Homo sapiens: one gene and its partner. Changing the gene in region 1 together with any one later gene gives a genetic interaction. Each region holds a gene or a part of one and is shown on either strand. Other genes may lie near its edges.

Region 1 (3,816 bases):
TCCTGGCATCTCCATTGCGCTATTGCTTTTTGGCAGCTTTAAATGATAGCACTGATCCTGCTTATGCTCTACCTCTCACTACATTATACTCTGTATCAGTTCTAGACTTTGGGTTATGTTAAGCCTGCATTCAGAACCTCATATCCTTGCTAAAGTCATATGGATATAGACTGCAAACCTTTGTAAATAACAAATCTTATGTGAGGTGCAGTGGGCATGTGACGCTCAGGATTTATCTGGTATAGATTCTTCCAATGCCAGGTGTATTGGTGAGCACACATAGTGGTTGTGTCATTAGAATAGTCAGTGCTTCTTGACCTTCCATTATTTGCAGTTACAAATAAAGTTGAGTACATAGTCTTGACAATTGAGGATCTTACGATTAAATGGAATATCTAATATGTATTAGATATTTTGTTCTTCCTTTAAAACCGTAAATGACTTCAGCTATATAGAGATGTGCACATGCAGAGGAGAAGAGTTTAGTGAGTGTCTTGAGTAAGTGGAGAGAACTTCAAGAAAGAGTTGGTTTTAAAAGAAATACTTACAAAGTGGTAGGGACTTGAAGAGGGTATTCTCTAGAATTCTGCATGAAATTACTCAAGCAGGCCTGACTTTTAGTATTTGCTTTTTGTAGATTTTTTCAGGTCTGTTGGTCAATCTCACAACCATTGCATCTTGGCTGTCATGGCTTCAGTACTTCAGCATTCCACGATATGGATTTACGGTATGTCTTCCTTGTCTGTCACTGTGACTGCATTCCCAAGCTAGGAACAATGGAAATCAAGTGTCCTCATCTCATTTCCCTGACCATGAGCTGTGAAAGTCTCCCATCCAGAAACTCCCTTTTAGGAGCAAGGAATGAGAATTTCCTGTTAGCCTTGGTTAACACAAGGCTGGGGAGTCATTTGCTATTTTCCTCAGTCATCCTTTAAAGGGCTAGGGGAGATACCTCCTAGTAAAGGAGAAAGATTGGCTAATTGATGAAAAACACATTGTTGCATTTCAGTTCAATAAGGAAGTAAATGAGAGGATGGGACACTAGAATACATATGTTTATAATGAAAGGAAAATTAGAAGAGCAAAGACCATATAATAAGCATAGTCATATTGGCTTTTGCAAGCTCATTAACTCCAAAGTAAACTATCTGTGTCTTAATATAGTATAACCAAGCTTCTAACATCCAAGAATTACAACTGGTTCTAATGAAAACAAACAAGAACGAAAGATTGTCACTGTAAATTAACAATACTCATTGAGCACCACTGTATCATTTTAATTAGAATGTTTATGGAGTTACAAAATTGGGGAGAGAAGGAGGAAGGAGCTATGGTGTAGTATAGCCAGAGGTCTCCCGCTTTGGCAAAATACTTTACTTCTTTTGTATTGGAAGCCAAAATCCCAACCCTAGGTTTCTTGATTGCCAGGGAAAATAACATTAGTTGGTTTGGTGAGACAAAGACTGTGAATATGTTTTTAGAAATAACAATAAAGATTAAACTCAGAGGGCATGATTGTGATAACTCTTTGGAAACTTCTTGAAATTTAAAACTGTTTACCTTGCCCTGCTCCCACTTGTGTTATAGGCTTTGCAGCATAATGAATTTTTGGGACAAAACTTCTGCCCAGGACTCAATGCAACAGGAAACAATCCTTGTAACTATGCAACGTAAGTTTTTGTTCAGTGTCAAAATGGGTTTTGTTACTACCATGGTGTGATGTATAAAGGCTACTGGGCTTAGATCTGTATGAGTCCTTCCAGGGGCACTGAATTTTTCCGAGCCTACGTTTTCTCATCCATAAAGTGAGTTGTGCGCGAATGCATGTGAACATGTGGCACAACCCCTCAGTATTCTGCTGCAGTAAAAATTGTCTTTAACATGCAGCAATGTTTCTTACGTTTGTTTCTTATTGTTTTGGGCCTTTTAAAAGATCCTTTTGATATTTTGATTGTGGGTTTGAATTCTTGGTTTTCAGAGCATTTGAGATTGAAGTGAGGTGCTTTGATATTTTATCAAGGGCTTATGGTTCCTGAACTGTATGGATTATATGAAATCTATGGGTCCCTGAACTCACGGATACTTCTGAGCCCAACCCACGGACAGTAGTAAGAATGAAATAGGCAGCAATAGCACAAAGAAAGTAAACATTTCCCTGCCAAGATCCTGGCACTTCCACTGCCTCATGCATTTGGAAGACATCATGAAATCAAAGGCCGCATAGTCATGTGTTGTTGTTTTTAAATTAACTTGGAATACTCCCTATCAATCGATTTATCCTCTAAAAAAACAAGAAACACTTGAATAAGTTGAGAAAAAAACCCCGTTTTCACATAATGTTAAAACAGATTCTAATAACACTGGATAATATTGTTTTAAGAATTTAGTAACACGTGCCTTTTCTATGATTGCTAATGGTTTGATTTTGATACATAAATTAATGAGAGAAAAGAGAATGTTGATATTATCCTCAATCTCCTGAATGTTCAAGTAGAATATAAATAATTCTGAATAACAGGACAAATTACTCTTTTGAATTGTCCACAGGAAATCCTCTGTACAGAGAGGTTTTCTTTATTCTGTCCCTCTCTTTTGGCTTGATCAGGGTGGTCAGGATGAAGTGGATGGGAAAAATGGGACCAGATAAGGAGGAACCACCATGGGCTTCATGGTAACGGAAGATGAGGCTTCATCCTCAGTAGACAAAGGAGGAAGATATTCCTTTTTTTTTTTTTTTTTTTTTGAAATGGAGTCTCGCTCTGTCACCGAGGCTGGAGTGCAGTGGCACGATGTCCGCTCACTGCAAGCTCCACCTCCCGGGTTGACGCCATTCTCCTGCCTCAGCCTCCTGAGTAGCTGGGATTACAGGTGCCCACCACCACACCTGGCTAATTTTTTGTATTTTTAGTAGAGATGGAGTTTCACCATGTTAGCCAGGATGGTCTCGTCTCCTGACCTCGTGATCCACCTGCCTTGGCCTCCCAAAGTGCTGGGATTACAGGCATGAGCCACTGCAGCCGGCCAGGAGGAAGCTATTCTTATAGTAAAAGAGAGGCTATGTATGTTTTTGGAATTGCTGAATTCCCAAGAGTTGCACAAAAATGGTATCAGGCAGTAACTGTGGCTGTCCAAGGTCTTTTTAGTACAAGATGATTTCCTAACCTGTGGCAAGGAGTTCATCCTACTCTACTCTAGCTGCCACTTAAGGCTTAAACCTGATAGCTGAGTCTGCTGGGAATGTCTTGTACCTGAGTATCTGTGATGCTCCTCACAGTCTTGGTGCAAGAGCTGACAGAACATGACTTTGGCAGGAAACCCATGCACACCTCTTTTCCTGGTTTTGGAATTCTTAACCTGTGTTGTTTTTTATGGCTATTTGTAAGCGTAAAGAGTACTGTAAGAGCTTTGATCATCTTAGTAAGGGTCACAGGTGTCATCTGTTTAAGCAGATATTTTCTTTATCAGGGATAAGGGAACTATTACTTGATAAATATTTCTGCCCTTTGGAGAGAGCAGCATTACAGATTTGGAAACCAATAAATTTGAGTAGGCTAAAAACTTGGTGATTCAAAGTATGACTCTGTAAACCTGGTCAAGTTCCTTAAACGTTAGTCCCCTCATCTTTTAAGTGTGTACAATGTCTATCACATTGGATTGTTTTAGGAATTAACTAAGTTAGGTCCATGTTGTTTGTTAGTGTCTAGCAAAATTGTAAACACACAATGACTGTTAGCTATGATATCTGAAGGGGTAATTATTAAAGGCTTGGTTCAATTTTAGGCTCCTTTAAGGAACAGTGGATATACTGAGTAACAT
Region 2 (3,816 bases), on another chromosome or scaffold:
GGAGTGTTCAGTATCGGCATCTAGAGATCTCCCCTGGCCCCATCACAGCTAGAGCTATGCTGTCCCCTTTCAGGGACATCTTGTAATTTATCCACCCAGCCCCCAACTGATGGACATAAAGGCTGTCTCCCCATCATCTCCTGCTACTACAGACAGCACTGCAGGGACTGTCCTGCTGTGTTTTTTTAAGGCATGGGTACTCCAGAAGCAGTTGCTCAGCTGCACCCCCAAGGTTGAGTGGAAGTCCCTCGGTAAAGGAGGAGGAGAGAGTGTGAAGGGAATGGCAAGGCGGGGAGGGAGACAGGGCACAGGTGTCCTGGCAACAGCAGATGGGAAACAGGTCTGGCTAAGGTACCAGAAGCCAACAAGTCCCAGAAAGGTCAAGTGACTTTCCCAAGGTCACACAGCAAGTTGATGGCAGAGCTGGGTACAGGACTCAGAGCATCTGACACCCAGGACGATGTTCCTGCACTGTTCCATAGAGTAGCCCGACTCTTAAGTTTAAATAACCCCAGGAAGGACCCCCTCTCTGTGCCTGACCCCCGCTGGGTTGTAGAGGCCTAAGTTTGCAGTAGCTCCTCCCAGCCACTCTGGCTGTCAGCCTCTGACCTGCAGTGGGAGGGTCTCACCTTCTGGAGATGTTTTAAGGAGGGGACCCCGGCCTAGGCACTAGCTGGGAAGCCACTGAGCCATCTTGTCTGCGGCCACTGACGTCAGTGCTTGGGCACAATGCCAGCCTGTTCCCGGGACCCCAGCACAAGGGCTACTGGGAGCCGGGTTTGGGGCAGGAAGTCAGCGTGAAGCACTGGTCCTGCCACATCCCAAGCCCCTTGTCCCCTAGCTCTGTGGGGGTGGGGTGACAGCTGCTATCGCTTTGGGGTTAACTATAGTCCCTTTGGGGTTAACTATAGTCCCATTGGTTATGGGACCTCAGTGTGATGTAGCCAGGCTGGATTCCCCCTTTTGTTTGTTCATTTATTCATTCATTCAGGGGTCTCATGACCCCACCAGGGAGGAGCCGTCCAAGAGAGTTAGCAGCTCCCACTTGCAAGATGTCTGTGGCAAGGCAGGCACTGTTCTGGTGCTGAGAGCTCAACTCCAGTCCTCACAGCAGCCCCCAGAGCCAAGGAGTATCACCAGTCCATTGCACAGATGGGGAAGCTGGGTTCTAGAGTCACAGCCAGCAGAGTAAAGGTGATGAGTTTAGCCCTCTTCCCTGTTTCCAGACCCTCTGAGGCCTTCAGAGCCCAGCTCCTTGAGGCAGCCCACCCCGACCGCTCCTAGGCTTACCCTTCCCTGAGCACCGCCCCTGTGCCCCTCATAGCTGCTTCTGCCTCCTCCCTCCTCCCTCCTCTCCCTTGCCCCTAGGCTAGTGTGGTCCCCATGGCAACTCCTGGGGCCTGTCCGGCAGGGAGGCACGGGGCTATGGGGAGGGCTGGCTCAGCAGCTCAGGAGTTTGACACCTGAGGGGGACAGAATGCTCACTCAAGGTGTGGCCCTAGGGACCCCCGCCTTGCCCCTGTGGGCCTCACTTGGGGTTCTCATCTGCAAAATGGGGATAATAATAGCTTCTCTGTCTCAGAGTTGTTAGAGGATGTGATGAGCCATAACGTGCCAAGGACAGGGCCTGGCACAGAATAAGTGCTCAGAAAACAGGGCCTGTTATTATTTTTATTATTATAATCAAGGCAGTGGGGAGGCGGCGGTGGCAGTAGCTGTAGGCCAGGAAGGGAGTGTTTGCAAACTGACAGCTGGAAGGGTGACTAACAGCGCAGCAGCCTCCGCGCCCCCCTGTGGTGGCAGGGAGTTTGGGGAGGAAGGGGGAGGCATGGGGATGTGGAATGCTAGCAGGGCCCCTATTCAGAAGGACCTAAAGGTTGGGGGCCCAGCCAGCCCTAGTGGGACCCTAATTCAAGCTCTGTCACCCCTAACTAGCTATGTGACTTCAGGCAAATTGTTCAACCAGTTGAGCCTCAGTTTCCGCTTCTGTGAAATGGGGGTAAGAGGGTTAGAAGAGCTCACAATCCTCCTTCCCTCCCCGCCACCCCCACCCCCACAGCTTACAGTCCACAGGAGGCAGGGGCAAGGGGTCCTCACCACCCCCACCCTCACAGCTTACAGTCCACAGGAGGCAGGGGCAAGGGGTCCCCGCCACCCCCACCCTCACAGCTTACAGTCCACAGGAGGCAGGGGCAAGGGGTCCCCGCCACCCCCACCCCCACAGCTTACAGTCCACAGGAGGCAGGGGTAAGGGGTCCCCGCCACCCCCACCCCCACAGCTTACAGTCCACAGGAGGCAGGGGCAAGGGGTCCCCGCCACCCCCACCCTCACAGCTTACAGTCCACAGGAGGCAGGGGCAAGGGATGGTTCCTGTACTTAGTGGTGACTGAGTCATGTGGATGGAGGCAGGTTTCAGGCTCATCCTCCTTGGGCCTCAGTGTCCCTGCCTAAACAGCAGGATTGATGGCCTGGCCTCTGGGGATAGAAAGGGCCCTGTATTCTGGGAGGAACGGAAGCTCTTTCATCCAGGGGATGGGGCAGGGGCGCACCAGACATTTCCAAGTTCAGGGTTTCATTCCAGCCCCTCCTCAGCCAGCTTGCAGGAGATACCTGTCCTCCCCTTCAGGGTAAGCAAGACTTAGAAGGGTTGAGTCACTCACCCCAAGTCGCACAGTCAACAGAGCCAGGTATTAAGCCCAGGCCTGACTATAGAGCCAGGTGTGCGGCCTGGAAGTGTTGGTTCTCCCTGGCCGTCTCCTCCCCAGCTCCTTCTGCTCTCCATGATCACATGCCCCCCTGCTGAGGCCCCATCGCCCTTGGAGTCAAACCCTGGTTCCTCACATTGGCAGTGGAAGTCCCCCTGCTGCCTGGCAGAGTTTATGCCAGGCCCACTTGAAACCATCCCCTACAGTGTCCCCTGAGCAGCGGTGCTCAAGGTGGACTCTGGAAGTGTGTGGGGTCCTAGAGCCCCAGATGGGCAGGGTCTGCCTTCCCGCTTCCCTCACCATCGGCTTCCACCTGGGCCAGTTTCTCATACTATGCCAGTCCCCTGCCTGACACCTTTGCTCAGACTGCTGCATCAACCTGGGGTGCCTTCCCTGGCCCGCCCTCTGCCTGTGTAAGCCCTGCAATCTTCAGGGCTCAGCCCCAGAGCTCCCTCCTCCAGGGAGCCTGTCTGAGCTCTGCAGTCCGTGCCTACTTCACACCCCCAGCACTTTGCACTAAAATGTCTTCTCCCGCGCCACTGCACTCCAGCCTGGGCAACAGAGCAAGACTCCGTCGCAATAATAACAATAATAATAAAATAAAATGTCTCCTTCCACTGGGGTAGGTAGCAATATTTGTGACTGTCAGCCTAGCCCCCAGACCTCATCCACTGTATCAAAGAGCCCAGCAAAGAGGCTCATGGAGGAGTTTCTCTTCTAACACACTGTGACCACGAAGATGCCACTGGCCCTTTCTCACCCTCAGTTTCCTCACCCGTAGAAAGGAAACAGTAGTTCCAGCCCCTCTGCTTCCTGAGACAGGTCCAAGGGGGCTCTGGGCTGGGATTACAAAGTATGTGTGTGCAGACGGGTGGGTTGCTGCTCTCAGGGAATGGGGTTGGCTAGGGTAGCTTTTTTGGGGAGTCAACTTTATTGAAGTAAATATACGGTTGACCCTTGAACAACACAGGGGTTGAGGGCATCAACCTCCTCCCTGCAGTCAAAAAATCATATATTAACTTTTGACTCCTCAAAAACTTAACTACTAATAGCCTATTGTTGTCAGAAAGCCTTGTAGATAAAGTTGATTGACACTCATTTTGTTTGTTA

Evidence for each region.
Region 2: changes in ABCG2 (region 1) and CSK are lethal when combined (synthetic lethality), as found in Homo sapiens cells (one large-scale study listed by BioGRID).

The regions. Positions count from the first base shown.
Region 1 is NC_000004.12:88,092,431-88,096,246, reverse strand, and holds part of ABCG2 (broad substrate specificity ATP-binding cassette transporter ABCG2), read left to right. Parts: intron 1-637; coding exon 638-727; intron 728-1,587; coding exon 1,588-1,670; intron 1,671-3,816.
Region 2 is NC_000015.10:74,792,055-74,795,870, forward strand, and holds part of CSK (tyrosine-protein kinase CSK), read left to right. Parts: intron 1-991; exon of another isoform or gene 992-1,194; intron 1,195-3,816. UniProt on the Homo sapiens protein: Non-receptor tyrosine-protein kinase that plays an important role in the regulation of cell growth, differentiation, migration and immune response.